4 linked regions of the Homo sapiens genome follow. The protein of the gene in region 4 purifies or fractionates together with the protein of the main gene of each other region. This does not show direct contact. Each region holds a gene or a part of one and is shown on either strand. Other genes may lie near its edges.

What was found. Proteins that work in one complex are often made in the same cells at the same time.
Region 1: the proteins of CBLN4 (region 4) and TOPBP1 purify together in Homo sapiens (affinity purification with mass spectrometry; 2 studies listed by BioGRID and IntAct, with this or other methods). This does not show direct contact.
Region 2: the proteins of CBLN4 (region 4) and PLXNA1 purify together in Homo sapiens (affinity purification with mass spectrometry; one large-scale study listed by BioGRID and IntAct). This does not show direct contact.
Region 3: the proteins of CBLN4 (region 4) and SEMA6B purify together in Homo sapiens (affinity purification with mass spectrometry; one large-scale study listed by BioGRID and IntAct). This does not show direct contact.

Annotation. Positions count from the first base shown.
Region 1 is NC_000003.12:133,599,738-133,602,941, reverse strand, and holds the end of TOPBP1 (DNA topoisomerase 2-binding protein 1), read left to right. Parts: intron 1-1,548; coding exon 1,549-1,692; 3' UTR 1,693-2,704; downstream 2,705-3,204. UniProt on the Homo sapiens protein: Scaffold protein that acts as a key protein-protein adapter in DNA replication and DNA repair. Composed of multiple BRCT domains, which specifically recognize and bind phosphorylated proteins, bringing proteins together into functional combinations.
Region 2 is NC_000003.12:126,989,615-126,993,114, reverse strand, and holds part of PLXNA1 (plexin-A1 precursor), read right to left. Parts: coding exon 3,328-3,500; intron 1,732-3,327; coding exon 1,549-1,731; intron 1-1,548. UniProt on the Homo sapiens protein: Coreceptor for SEMA3A, SEMA3C, SEMA3F and SEMA6D. Necessary for signaling by class 3 semaphorins and subsequent remodeling of the cytoskeleton. Plays a role in axon guidance, invasive growth and cell migration.
Region 3 is NC_000019.10:4,549,685-4,553,184, reverse strand, and holds part of SEMA6B (semaphorin-6B precursor), read left to right. Parts: intron 1-545; coding exon 546-763; intron 764-2,254; coding exon 2,255-2,386; intron 2,387-2,912; coding exon 2,913-3,062; intron 3,063-3,500. UniProt on the Homo sapiens protein: Functions as a cell surface repellent for mossy fibers of developing neurons in the hippocampus where it plays a role in axon guidance.
Region 4 is NC_000020.11:56,002,720-56,006,926, reverse strand, and holds the start of CBLN4 (cerebellin-4 precursor), read left to right. Parts: upstream 1-1,407; 5' UTR 1,408-2,755; coding exon 2,756-3,046; intron 3,047-4,207. UniProt on the Homo sapiens protein: Acts as a synaptic organizer in specific subsets of neurons in the brain. Essential for the formation and maintenance of inhibitory GABAergic synapses.

The sequences.
Region 1 (3,204 bases), on a different chromosome or scaffold from region 4:
CCTAGGTGACAAGAGCGAAACTCTGTCTCAAAAAAAAAAAAAAAAAAAATGAAAAAAGGTAGATCTCTTGCATCCAAGTTGGTTCATTTGCTTCCCCTGTCCTTTATACCAGGGGTCAGTAAACTATAGCCACCTGGCCAAACCTGGCCCACTGCCTATTTTATAAATAAAGGTTTGTTGGAAAACAGCCATACTCATTCATTTATGTATTTTCTATGGCTGCTTTTGCACTATAATGGCAGAGTTAAGTAGTTTCAGCACAAATCATCTATCCCACAAAATCTAAAATGTTTCTGTCTGAGCCTTTACAGAAAGTGTGCTGACCTCTGCTTTATGCAGTAGTTGTCATATATTTTACATCTACATCTTATAGCCCCAAATAAGATTTTACTTTAAATAGGTTTTGCTTTTAACAATTCTGTGCATTTTGAGGAAACTAAAATAAAAAATGGTATTTTATAATTACCCTCATGTATACCAGTTTGAGTGTCAGTTTTCCCTGAAGATCTGAGTTTCCATCTGATAACATTTTCCTTCAGCCTGAAGAACTAACTTTAGTTTGGAGTGCAGGTTGATTGGGGATCAATTCTAGCTTTCTGTTGTATGAAATGTCTATTCTACCTTCATTGTTGAAGGACAGTTTTGCAGGATACAGAATTATAGATTGACAGGTTTTTTTCTTCTATTAAAGACTTCACTGTCTGCTGGCCTCCATTGTTTCTGTTGAGAAATCAGTGATGGTCATTTGAATTGTTCCCTTGTATTCAATGTGTCATTTTTGAGACCAGCCACCAGCCTGGGCAACACAGCAAGACCCTTATCTCCCCCTAAAAAAGAAACTCTAGGTTCTATTGTTCCTTTGCTCCTCCAAAGAGTACTGTGTTGTTTAACAGGCAGTTTACTTCATACACTGTGTTTGCGTCCCCAGCCCCCCATTTGCTTGGTTCGTTTATTCTCCAGGCTCTATGGTTGCTTTTAATATATTTTGGTCAGAATTTGTAGCTGTTATCCATGGAAGAATTGAATCAAAAGGCACTTACTTGGTATTTTGTGGTGATTCATTTTCAGGTTGCCCAGTCTGCCATATTGCTAGAAAATTAAGTTTTATTACACTTATAATAAGGAGGAAAAGATCCATTTCTATGTTGGGAAATGGTTGTGGGGGGAAAATGCAAGGGTTTTGGAGTCAGATCAGTTATGAAATTTGGCTTTGCTACCTGCTAGTTATGTGACATTGGTTGTTTTCATTTAACCTTTTTTATTTTATCTCAAAAATGGGGATTAAAAACACCGATATGAAATGTTTGTAAGATCTGAGCTAGTCCCACTCTACCTGAACCATACACGTATTTCTTTGATAAAAGGTGAGACTTTGTCCCACAGGGTCCATTTTGTTTAATTTGCTGGAACCTAGGAATGAATATGCGTTTTCCTTTAAGTTTGTCAGATTCATCCCTGAGAGGTCTGAGATTTAAAGAAAAAATCTATTACCAGATCACGTAAATGTTTGAAATCATTTTAAAAAATCACTTATTTTTCCTTTTATAGGAATCACCTCCTCATGTAGAAAATTACTGTCTACCAGAAGCTATTTCATTTATTCAGAATAATAAGGAACTTGGGACTGGATTATCACAAAAGAGGAAAGCTCCTACAGAAAAAAATAAAATCAAACGACCTAGAGTACACTAATCGCATCTACCCTTTAGTTACCAAACATTAAATGTTTTTAAAAATTGAAAGCCTGAATGTGACTGTGATAGATTTGGGTAGTAATTTAAAGATGAGTACCTGAAGAATTCTGCTTCAGAGTATAATGATGACCCTTCTTGAGTTTTGAACACCTGAAATTGTAATCACTGAAATATTAACTGTTTCTTAATAAAAAGTTACCTGAAATAACAACAAAATACAACTCCTCAGCTAGCTTGCTGTTAAACCACATTGAAGTCTGTTAAAAGATATTTATTTTTCTTGTAAATATCTGAAGCTGTAGCTTAGTGGAAATTTTAGCAAGGTAATGGATTTTGCTTTAAAATGTCTGCCTTACAAATTCATAACAACAAGATTTGTCAGTCAGCATTTATTCATGTTTTCCCTGATTTTTATCTTCTCACCATTTTACCTCTTTTAACAGGAGCCTGAGCACAAGGTTTAATGAGGAAGCTGGGGCTATAAATATGTGTGTATATATGTATATGTATGTTTGTACAAATCTCCATGATGTTTGCCAAGTTTGAATGCGCAAAACTTGGAAAATGTGACAATAAAGAATAAAAGTAGTAACTCAAATTAGTATTAAGATGTGTTTACATAGATAAATTTTTTAAAAGAGCACCCTGGCATCTGTTCTTCTGTTGAAGCAACAAAACATTTATGTAACGTAAAAAATGAATTGCAGGGGCCTGGGTGCGGTGGCTCGTGCCTGTAATCCCAGCACTTTGGGAGGCTGAGGCAGGCGGATCGTCTGAGGTCGGGAGTTTGAGACCAGCCTGACCAACATGGAGAAACCTCATCTGTACTAAAAATACAAAAAATTAGCCCAGTGTGGTGGCACATGCCTGTAATCCCAGCTACTCAGGAGGCTGAGGCAGGAGAATCGCTTGAACCCGGGAGGCGGAGGTTGCGGTGAGCTGAGATCGCGCCATTGCACTCCAGCCTGGGCAACAAGAGCGAAACTCCATCTCAAAAAAAAAAAAAAAAAGAATTGCAGGCCAGGCACGGTGGCTCATGCTTGTAATCCCACCACTTTGGGAGGCCAAGGTGGGTGGACTGCTTGAACCCAGAAGTTCAAGACCAGCCTGGACAACATGGCGAAACCCCATCTCTGCAAAAAATAGCAAAAAATTAGCCGGGCATGCTGTTTGATGCTTGTAGTCCCAGCTACTTGGGAGGCTGAGGCATGAGAATTACTTGAACTCAGGAGGCAGAGGTTGCAGTGAGCTGAAATCATGCCACTGCAACTCCAGCCTGGGTGACAGAATGAGACCCTGTCTCAAAAAAAATAAATGAATTGCTTAACATTTCTGATATTTGTTATTTAGAATATTGCCCTATTAGATTAAAACATACTGTTATTGGAACTCTGTATTGCATTAGCCTTTATTATGCTAAACCTAAACACCTAATACTACATGCGTTACCAGAATTCTCTATAAATACACCTAATTTCATTTTAAGGACAAACTAGAATCCGTTAGGAAT
Region 2 (3,500 bases), on a different chromosome or scaffold from region 4:
GCTCTGACCCAAACGGTGCCCCTGGGGCACAAGAGGGTGAGTGCTGGGCAGCAGGAACAGGGTAGGGCTAGAGGAACCTGGTCACTGGCTGGGTAACAGGCTCTGGGGCGCCCCACAAAATGTCTCTAAGCTGCTGCACTGGGCTTCCACACAAGCACGGTCCTCTGTCTGGCAAAACCCACTCCAACACCCACCCCATGCGCTCGAGAGCCCTGTGTGCCTTCCAGTGTGAGGAGAGGGAGTGCAGGCTGAGAGGACGGGAGGGGCCTCGCACCAGAGCCACAGGGCGGTACCCCACATGGGGGCCAAGAGGGAAGTCACAGCAGAGGACCCAACTCAGGGGTCACAGGACTTTCCCCATCAGCTTCAGCCTCATAGCCACTATGAGCAGAACCAGCAGGACCCCAGGGCACCCCCACCCTGGGGGGCCTACAATCAGCAGCTGGGCCCCCACGGGCCCCAAGACCACCAGCACCCCCCGCCCCCAGCCCAGAGCCTGAACATCTGGCTTATTTCACAGAGGGAAGCTGAGGCTGCAGGGGATCCCCTCCCAGAGATCACAGAGCCAGGGAGGGGCAGGACTCCCCACCACTCCCAGGGCAACTACCATGGCAGAGATGGGAGGCCCCCTTCCTAACACTGGGCACCGGGCTGAGAGCTGCAAGCCCTGGCCAGCCCCCGGCCCAGCCCCACTCGCGGGCACACATGGGCTCAGGGGAGCTGCATCGGCACCAGCCTCTGGTGCCGGTTATGCACCCCAGGACCCACCACTGCCCACTGGGCCTCTGGGGTGTCCAAGTATCCCCACCCTTCAGTCTCTCCGGGAGCTTCCTCCACACCAGGCCAGCCTGGTGCCCACCCCAGCCCAGGCAGCTCCCCTCCACCCACACCCTCCAGGAAGCTCTGCACTGCCTCTGTCCAGCCCACTGTTCTGGGGAAGGAAAGGAGAACCCTGAAGACCAGACAGCCATCCCTGTAGCACCTAGCCCTCCCCCTGCCACCGTGGGGCCAGCCCAGGGCTGTGTGCTGGAGCTCCTCAAGCACCAGCCAAAGACAGGCAGGGGCACTACCCTTGCCCTGCCCTTGGCCCAGTAGAGGGGCTGGGGAGAGGCAGGGCCAAGGCCTCTGGCCCGGCAGAGTGCTGAGGCAGCAGACACTGGATCTCCTGGCTGGGGAGCAGGGCCCAGAGGGGAGGGGGCCGCGCAGGCCTGCCCTCACCACCCACACACAGCAGCCTCCCCAGGAGGTCAAGTGCCCTTGGAGAGCCAGCCCCCGCCTCAGCATCCCTGGGCCCCTGCACAGGCTCCTGCGTGGTCTCAAAGTGTCCTTGCTTAGTGGGCCTGGGGCCAGTCATGGGCAGAGGCACAGAGGGGAGTGGGGCCCTTCAAGGTCACTGGGCCTAGTGTAGGGCAACATTCCCCCTGCCCCCTGTACGCCAGATCTAGCCTCCCACAGCATACAGCAGCACTGGGCCTGCCACCTGGGACGGCCGCAAGCCTTTGTTCCTGCCCCAAGCCCCCTCCTCACCCCACCCCACCCAGGCCTGACCTTGCGGATGCGGCCACTTCGCGTGCCGGCGAATACCACAGTGCGGCCCCGATAGTCATAGGCAGCCACGGCGGTCAGGCCATCATCCTTGTCCACGAACAGGGGCGTCCCCTCAATGGTGACTGTGCCCCCCAGGGGCTGGTTGAAGTCCTGCCCGCAGAAGTCGTCATCGATCTGCAGGGGCTGTGGGAAGGGGCAGGGTGAGAGCCACTCCCCGGGCACCTTCTCCCGGAGGACTGGGCCTCCCTGGGCAGGGCTGGGAGTGCAGTTGTCTTTCTAGAGAGGTTGGGGGTAGCCCCCAGAGGAGAGGTGCAGACAGAGAGGGTTTAAGACAGGAGGGAGCAGATCACACCTGAAAGGCAGAGGGCGGGCTCCCAGCTAAGAGCACGAGAAAGCAATCAATAGCTTGAGGTTCCGGAGCAGCTGGGGGCCAGTGTGGAGGGGGCGCTGCTCCACCGCCAGGCCTAAGGAGAGGGCAGGGCAGGCAGGGAAGGGATGTGGGGAGAAGTGGGGCAGATGGTCCTTGTCTGCAGAGGGTTCATTGGCAGGGGCCAGGCTGCTCAGGAGGAAGGAGCAGGGGAGGCTGGGCCAGGGCTAGGCCACATGGAATGAACAGGTGGGAGGGGGCAGTGGGGACTGTCCCCAGGGATGAAAGAGCAGGCCCCAGCCTTGGGGCAGGGCACAAAGAGAGAGTGTGGTGGGGCTTCACCCAGGCTCTGCCCCTACAAGCCTCAGTGTCTCCATCTGTATGGTGCAGAGAAAACACGTTCCTTGAAAAGCCAAGGGGAGGGTGGACAACCGCATCTGCCAAGCACACATGGGCCCTGCCTCACACAGGCAGTGAGCGTGAGACGGAAGGACTGAGGGGCCCTTGCAGTCCCACTCTGCCCTGAGGACAAAACCAGCAACACCCTCAGGTCAGACATGGGAGACTACAGCCAGAGAGGGCGAGGCCTTCCCCTGCGATGGCCAGCGACCCCCAGCAGCAAGCCCAGAAGGCCTGGCCTCGGGGGTCCCAGGTCTGGGCCGAGTCCCAGCCCCTTCACTTTCCACCCTAAGCAAGGCCCGTGCCCTCTGAGCCTGCCCAGGAGTGTGAACAAGACACTCCCTGAAAGGCAGCGAGATAGAGGCCCCACCCCAGCTGTGCCTTCTGATGGGTGCTGGGGGCTGTGGCTCCCTGCAGTCAGGGTCACTTTCTCTGCAAGTTGTTAACTGTGGCCTGCACCAGGACACCATCAGCTCCCATTGCTGGGCAAAAGCAGAGGCCCAGCGGGCAGGTGCCACCAGGGTCATGTGGGGGACACAAGCGCTCCATGGAAATGGTGTCTGGGCTCACCTGATAGGCTCTGGCACCAGCCTCTCACTTGCTGTGTGACCCAGGGCAAGTTACCCCACCTCTCTGATCCTATAACCTCATTTGTAGGATGGGGACAAGATGGAGCAGGCAAGCACCAGGTGTAGGACCAGGCATGTGGCTGGCACTCTGTCCAGTGTCCCACAGGGGCTGTGGACTATGCCAGCAGGGCCTCGTCACCCCATCTTCTGAGGCACAAGACAGCATCATGGCTGGGAGCAGCCTTTGGGGCTAGCACCCTGGGTCCAAACCCACTCTCTGGGGGATGGAAAAGGGCAGCCCCACCTAGCTGAGCCATGGGGATGGCCAAGCCAAAAGCCAGGCCAGGCACACAGCAGGCACCACTGGGCGTGCATCTGACACCGATGCCGTCGTCCCTGGAGGGGATGGGGCCGCGGGAGGAGGGGCGCCCCTGCCCAACTCACCGAGTTGATGCAGCCCAGCTCCTTGTTGAGCAGCCACGGCAGGGAGAGCTTGCCCTCACCACGGTAGCAGGACTGGATGCGCTCCTTAATCTTCTCCTTGATGGCCCTGAGCGTGAACAGGCACAGTGCTGACTCCTTTGGTGGCTTCACGCGGTTCTTCTGGCCCTGGGCGA
Region 3 (3,500 bases), on a different chromosome or scaffold from region 4:
GATTACCTTGTTCTCCTTCACCATCTCTTCCATTATCTATCATCCTTCTTCAGATGTATTTATTTATCCATCCACCTACTCATCCCTCCATTGTAATCGTCCGTCCATCTACTCATCCACTCATCCGTCCATCCAGGCAACCAGGCAGTGCTGAAGTGCACAGACTGCCACTAACTACTATTGTGACCTTGGACCAGTCACTTCCTTTTATCTGTGCCTCTTATCAGTGTCCCCACATGTACAATGGGGGGATATCAGTAGGCCCCCCTCGGGAAGAGTGTAAGAGATGTGAGAATAAAATGTGGGTCTTCGTGGAAACAGTGATGATTATGGTTGTCACTGTTGCTATTATCATCATTGACATTCCCACCGGGAATTTCTGCCAGGGAAGCCGGTGCCCAGAGAGGAACGGTGACTGGCCGGGGTCCCACCAGAGCCAGGGTCAGACTCCTCCATCACAGTTTGGGTGGTGAGTGGCACAGCCTGTGAACAGGCCTTCCTGGGACACAGAGCTCAGGCCCCCGTCCGTCCACTGTCACGCCCAGGTGGTGGTGTCCCGCGTGGCCCGAGTGTGCAAGAACGACGTGGGAGGCTCCCCCCGCGTGCTGGAGAAGCAGTGGACGTCCTTCCTGAAGGCGCGGCTCAACTGCTCTGTACCCGGAGACTCCCATTTCTACTTCAACGTGCTGCAGGCTGTCACGGGCGTGGTCAGCCTCGGGGGCCGGCCCGTGGTCCTGGCCGTTTTTTCCACGCCCAGCAACAGGTCAGCGCCCACCAATGGGAGCAAACTGGGAGCATTTGGTGGGCATGGGTAGAGAGGGCCTGTATTCACTCCTCAGGTATGCCCTGGGTGCTAGGTTGGGCACCACTGGATTAGACCTCTGAGAGGCCTCGGCCCCAGGCTGGGGTGGGACAAGCTGACACTGACCCTCTAAGTCCCTTTGGTCAGAACTGGGCCAAAGATATCCTCATCCTCTGCCTTTGGGGAGAGGAGCAGGGAGGGCTTCCTGGAGGAGGGGACATTGGAGCTGGACTTTGGGTGTGAGATGGAGGAAGAGGGAAGGGTGTTCAAAGTTGGAGAAACAGCATGTGCAAAGGTCCTGAGGCTTCAGTGAGTTCAGTATACTTAAGTAATCGTGAGAGAGTCTGTGTGGGAAGGGAACTAGGGGAGAATGCACAACAGGAAAGCAGGGAACTGGTAGGATGGATCAGGCAAGGCTTTGTGGGCTGCAGGCAGAAACTTGGACTTTTTCCCTGAGAGCACTGGGGAGCCATGGAAGAGTGAAGAGCAAGAGGGATGAGATCAGGTTTGCATTTTTTGTTTGTTTGTTTGTTTGTTTGGTTTGGTTTTTTTTTTGAGACAGTTTCACTCTTGTTGCCCAGGCTGGAGTGCAGTGGCGCGATCTCGGCTCACCACAACCTCTGCCTCCTGGGTTCAAGCAATTCTCCTGCCTCAGCCTCCCTAGTAGCTGGGATTACAGGCGTGCGCCACCACACCCAGCTTATTTTGTATTTTTAGTAGAGACGGGGTTTCTCCATTTTGGTCAGGCTGGACTCAAACTCCTGACCTCGTGATCCACCCGCCTCAGCCTCCCAAAGTGTTGGGATTACAGGCGTCAGCCACCGCACCCGGCCAAGGTTTGCATTTTTAAAAAGCCTGCTTGTGGACTGGGCACGGTGGCTTCGCCTGTAATCCCAGCACTTTGGGAGGCTGAGGAGGGCAGATCACTTGAGGTCAGGAGTTCGAAACCAGCCTGGCCAACATGGTGAAACCCCATCTCTACTAAAAATACAAAAATTAGCTGGGTGTGGTGGTGGGCACCTGTAATTCCAGCTACTCGGGAGACTGAGGCAGGAGAATTGCTTGAACCTGGGAGGTGTAGGTTACAGTGACCTGAGATCACGTCACTGCACTCCAGCCTGGGCGACAGAGCAAGACTCGGTCTCCAAAAAAAAAAAAAAAAGCCTGCTGGGGAGTGGGCTCTAACAGTGACACTGGGCAGGCAGGACATCCAGTTAAACAGGGATGGGGGCCTGGACAGGGGTGGCCTCGTAGACCCTGAACTGTGGCCCAATCTGAGATGTTATTCAGGAGGAGTGGCTGCATTCGACAGATGCGGGAGGGACAGGGGACATCTCTGGCCTAGGAAGACTGAAGATTCACTGGCTCCTGCAGACAGAGGCTCCTGCACGCACTTGTCCGAGATGGGGCCTCCCACCGGGCTCACCAAACTCTTTCATCCCAACCCCTCAGCATCCCTGGCTCGGCTGTCTGCGCCTTTGACCTGACACAGGTGGCAGCTGTGTTTGAAGGCCGCTTCCGAGAGCAGAAGTCCCCCGAGTCCATCTGGACGCCGGTGCCGGAGGATCAGGTGCCTCGACCCCGGTGAGAACCCCCTCCATCCTGAGTCACATGCCCGGATGAGGTCCTGATCCCCAGGGCCGAGGGCTGGGGCTTCCGGGTGGTTATTTAGCTGATGCTGAGTTCAGCTGTACCCGTTATACAGTTGGGAAAAACTGAGGCCTGGTGTGGTGGCTCACGCCTGTAATCCTAGCCCTTTGGGAGGCGGAGGTGGGCAGATCACCTGAGGTCGAGGGTTTGAGACCAGCCCGACCAACATGGCGAAACCCTGTCTCTACTAAAAATACAAAAATTAGCCGGGCGTGATGGCACGTGCCTGTAATCCCAGCCACTCGGGTGGCTGAAGCAGGAGAATCGCTTGAACCCAGGAGGTGGAGGTTGCAGTGAGCCAAAGCACTCCAGCCTGGGCGACAGATTGAGACTCTGTCTCAAAAACAAAACAAACAAAAAACCTGAGGGTCGTTGGGCAAAGCAATGGGTACCTCTGGTGAATCAGGCCCCTTTATGAGAACCTTTACGTTCGTCCTGACCACACCCTTGTCACCCCCAGGCCCGGGTGCTGCGCAGCCCCCGGGATGCAGTACAATGCCTCCAGCGCCTTGCCGGATGACATCCTCAACTTTGTCAAGACCCACCCTCTGATGGACGAGGCGGTGCCCTCGCTGGGCCATGCGCCCTGGATCCTGCGGACCCTGATGAGGTCGGTCCTGGAGAGGCAGGGCATGGCGAGGGGAGACAGGATGGGGTAGATGGAGGGTGAGAGGATCCAGATGCTCAACACAGATGAGCCCATGGCTTCCGGCGCTGCCCAGAGAGCTGGAGACACAGAGAGACAGAGAGGGAAAGATGGAGAGACACTAGGAAAGAGAGAACAAAGAGAGAGACAGAGGGATCAAGAGGTGACAGATGGGGCTGGGCACGGTGGCTCATGCTTGTAATCCCAGCACTTTGGGAGGCCGAGGCTGCCAGATCACCTAAGGCCAGGAATTCGAGACCACCCTGGCCAACATGGAGAAACCTCGTCTCTACTTAAAATACAAAAATTGGCCGGGCATGGTGGCTCACGCCTGTAATCCCAGCACTTTGGGAGGCCGAGGCAGGCGGATCACGAGGCCAGGAGATGGAGACCATCTTGGTT
Region 4 (4,207 bases):
AGTTATTGAACAGCTGTCCCAGACAAGGAAGGCAGGGTGCTTACCCCTACAGGAAATAAAAGGAACTAAATTCAACTCAGCACCCACCCTCAAAAGACTGCATCAAATGAGAAGAAATTGCTGCTGTTAACCAGGCAGACATCCCTAAAATCTGGAAGAGAGTTACAAAGTGCAGAGAGGGATCAGGTGAAGATTGTGCTGGGCTTAGGGTGGGGCATCAAAGCTGGGTAAATGGTGGCCATCTTCAGAAGGCACTAGTTCACCTTGTTTGGTTGTAGCTTAGATAGGTAACTTTCAACATTTTAACAAATAGCATGGTACTAGCACCTGCCAGCCGGAACTGACACCGGCCTGTAGTCTCAGCTACTGGGGAGGCTGAGGTAGTAGAATCGCTTGAGCCCAGTAGTTTTGCATCTAGCCTGGGCAATATAGCGAGACCACCCCCCACCACAAGTAAAATAAAATCATAAAGTCAAAACACCTGATACTGGCCCCACTGGAGCAGAATCTGAAGGCCCCTGTGGCACCAAGTATTAACACTTTAGTTGAGAGATTATAGGGAGGTGAGGGTTAGGGGATTCCTCGTAGTGTCTTCAATTTTAACAGTTGGAGCTGGTGCTTATAGCTCAATGCCCGGCCCTTCTGAAGGAAGGGAAAAAGGCTGGAGACGAGGTTCACCTTGTTTTGTGGAGGGCTCGAATGCCACGCTCATGAGGGCGTCCTTCACTCAGGAAGGAATGGGAGCCGTCCATCCCAAGGACCTCCCTCAATAAACATCCCTTCCATTCATAACTAGCCAATGCCATTTTAGGAGCTCCGAATGCCTGGAGGGGATACTGTTTTGGTTAAAGATACCATACGTGTCTGCCCTCTGGCAGCTGGAAGTGTAGAAGAAATTGGGGAAGGGGCGCCATGACCCCACAGCATCACAGAATTGGAAAGCTGGCGGGATGGGGGTGGGGAGGACCTTAGTTAACGCCGCGCCCCCCTCTCAGAGAGGGTTAGTGACTCGGCCAAGTTCACGCAGCCGGGTCCAGACAGAGACAAACCTCCCTTCCCCGTGGTAGCTGCAGAAGAGGAAGGGAACTCTTGCAAATCAGAGGCCAAGATAGCAGTGGAGTGGCACGGGGGCGGAAAGCGCATCCAAAGGGGAGAAAAATGCTGTATTCCTAGGAGTGGGATTGTCTTTTATTTTTATTTTTATTTTTATTTTTTTATTGTTGTTGGCACGGTTTCGGAGGACTTATTCTTGCTGAGTTAACTCCCTCTCCCACTCTTTTTTTTGGCCATGCCTGGGGAGGATTCGCGGTGTGGGGGGAAGGCGCGCCCCTGCGGCTTCTGAGGCTCATCTTCCCGGAGCGGAAGGAAGGAATCAGGCACCTCCTCCCAGCCGCCCCCACGGGCTCTGGTCCGCCCCAAGGCTTCCCTGAGCTCGCCAGGCCCCAGGGCTGTGTGGGGCGGGCTCCCGGCCAGGCGCGGTCGGGACGCCCGCCGGTCCCCAGGTTCGGGGCAGCGCGCAGCGCGGGTCCGCGGCGGCTTATCCTTTTTCGCGACCCGGCCTGGCAGCGCCGCGCTCCGCTTGGAGGGCACTCGGCGGCAGAGTTCCGCGCTGGGAGGGGTGAGGGGACCAGCCGCCTCCTCTGCGGACTCAGATCGAGCAGGAGAGAGTGGGCGCGGAGCTGGGGCCAGCGCAGGGCCGTGGGCTCCTCTCTGGGCACGCATCCTTTACGCCACGGGCTTTCAGGGGCTGAGGGGCCTCGAACCTTGCCAATCACCAGTGCTGTGCGCCCCGCTTGCTTTGGGGTGCGTTAAACGTCAGGAGAGAGCTGCTCAGATGGGGTCACCAGACGCCTTCTCCCCCTTTTCTCGGAGCCCGCGGGTTGCGCGATAAGCCAACCCAGCCGGACGCTGCGCTCCTATAAATAGAGCGCGTGTGCCCGCTTCGCGCTCTCCGGGCTGCACGAGGGACGAGAAAGTTGTGCGCAGGGACTGGGGGCGGGCGGCCAGGCAGGAGAGGACCCCGCCGGACCAGCCGCCCTGAACGCTGCGCCCGGCGCCCTGGACCTGATCCTGCGAATCCGCGCTTTCGGTGCGAGGGACCTGGCTAGCCGCTGCCTCCCTCCCTACCTCTGGGTGACACCAGGTTTGGGGGATTTTTTTGACCAGGCGAAAGTGGGAGTCGCTGGCGTCCTGGCCATGAACACAGCCTCGCGTTCTTCTCAGCCTGGGAAGGACCTTCTGCCTCTGTAACTCGTCCCTGCCGCAAGCCAGACAGGACTGGCACCCGCGCCGCTGGGCACCCGCCACCCTTGTGGCTTCTCTTTGAGTCCCCTCTTTTTGTTCCTGCTCCGTGGTTTAGCTGGTGGTGCTTGAGTTTGGGGTGAGAATTTATTATTATTATTATTTTTTGCCTTGAGGTGTGAATGTGAGGGTTTGATGACTTTCAGATGTCTAGGAACCAGAGTGGGTGCAGGGGCCCCAGGCAGGGCTGATTCTTGGGCGGAGGAGAGTAGGGTAAAGGGTGCTGCATGAGCTCCTTAAAGGACAAAGGTAACAGAGCCAGCGAGAGAGCTCGAGGGGAGACTTTGACTTCAAGCCACAGAATTGGTGGAAGTGTGCGCGCCGCCGCCGCCGTCGCTCCTGCAGCGCTGTCGACCTAGCCGCTAGCATCTTCCCGAGCACCGGGATCCCGGGGTAGGAGGCGACGCGGGCGAGCACCAGCGCCAGCCGGCTGCGGCTGCCCACACGGCTCACCATGGGCTCCGGGCGCCGGGCGCTGTCCGCGGTGCCGGCCGTGCTGCTGGTCCTCACGCTGCCGGGGCTGCCCGTCTGGGCACAGAACGACACGGAGCCCATCGTGCTGGAGGGCAAGTGTCTGGTGGTGTGCGACTCGAACCCGGCCACGGACTCCAAGGGCTCCTCTTCCTCCCCGCTGGGGATATCGGTCCGGGCGGCCAACTCCAAGGTCGCCTTCTCGGCGGTGCGGAGCACCAACCACGAGCCATCCGAGATGAGCAACAAGACGCGCATCATTTACTTCGATCAGGTCAGACCCGGGGGGAAGCGAGCACCTAGGGGGTGGGCGGTCTCCAGGCACCTCAGCACGAGGCTGCCTGCCCAGGCTAAGCTGGTCCGATTGGGAAATGGGGAATCATGTAAAGCACTCGCCTTCCCAAATATGCCTGGGTCTGAAACTTCTACCGTCCCTCTTCCTACCCCTCTCACCAGCCCCGGCTCCCATTTCTTCCGGGCCCCTAAAAGAGGCTGCTGCGGCGGCGGGGGAGAGGCTTGGGAGCCCAGAGCCCGGCAGCGAGAGCTCAGGGCAAGTTTCGAGCAACAGGTCGGCGGGAGCCGAAGGGCACCTGGTCCCTGGACGTCGTTATCTCTTGGCCAGATCTTGGTGCCCTTGCTCAGACTCCTCTGCGGGTGCCGCTGAGGCTGCTCCCTGGGTACCTTTGCGGAACAGGATAAATGTTTGATTTGTTTCTCCCAGGTAGAGAAGCTTCTCTCCCAAGAGAGCCCCGGGCTTCCACACTCTTCAGAGATCGGGCAGGTGGCCGCGGAGGGCGGGGGCAGAGCCGGGGGTCAGATCTCGCCTGCAGGTTCCACTGTTCGTGTGCCAGGCACCGCTGGCACTGCCGCTGCCTCGGAGTAGGCAGCAAGCCCTTCTCCGGTACTTAGAGAAAAGTTGCGGAGGAGGGGAGGAAAAGGAATTTGGCAACTGCGCTGAGCTCCTGTAGGAAAGCGCTTGGGAGCCAGTTCTCCCTTCCCGGGCTCATGTCCTTTCAGAGAATTGCAAATAGCTGGGGAAAGACAGACTTTGAGGTTGATGAGAGTAGGGGAAGAGCTGACGGAAGCTGTAGCTGCTGTTTAGCGACCTGGTGCTCCGTGTTTGGCTTGATGAGAAACCCCAGGATATCAGCTTACCTTTAGCAAGGGGTCTTAAGGGAGAAAACTGTCCTCAGAGTTTTTAATTTCAGCCCCAACAGTATCCAGAGTCTTTTTAAATTCCAAATTCACAGTTCACAGTTGTATGCAAAGCTGCAATGTGCAGGGGGCACAGGTTAAGTGGTGTTGCAGGATGTGCCAGGGAAAGCACGAGGTGACATCTGTATTCCTTGCTTAATTTTTCCTAACTAATGCACTCTCCAGCTGGCCAAAGACAGAGAATGCCTCTCTAGGGGCTTAGTATTTGATAGACATAATT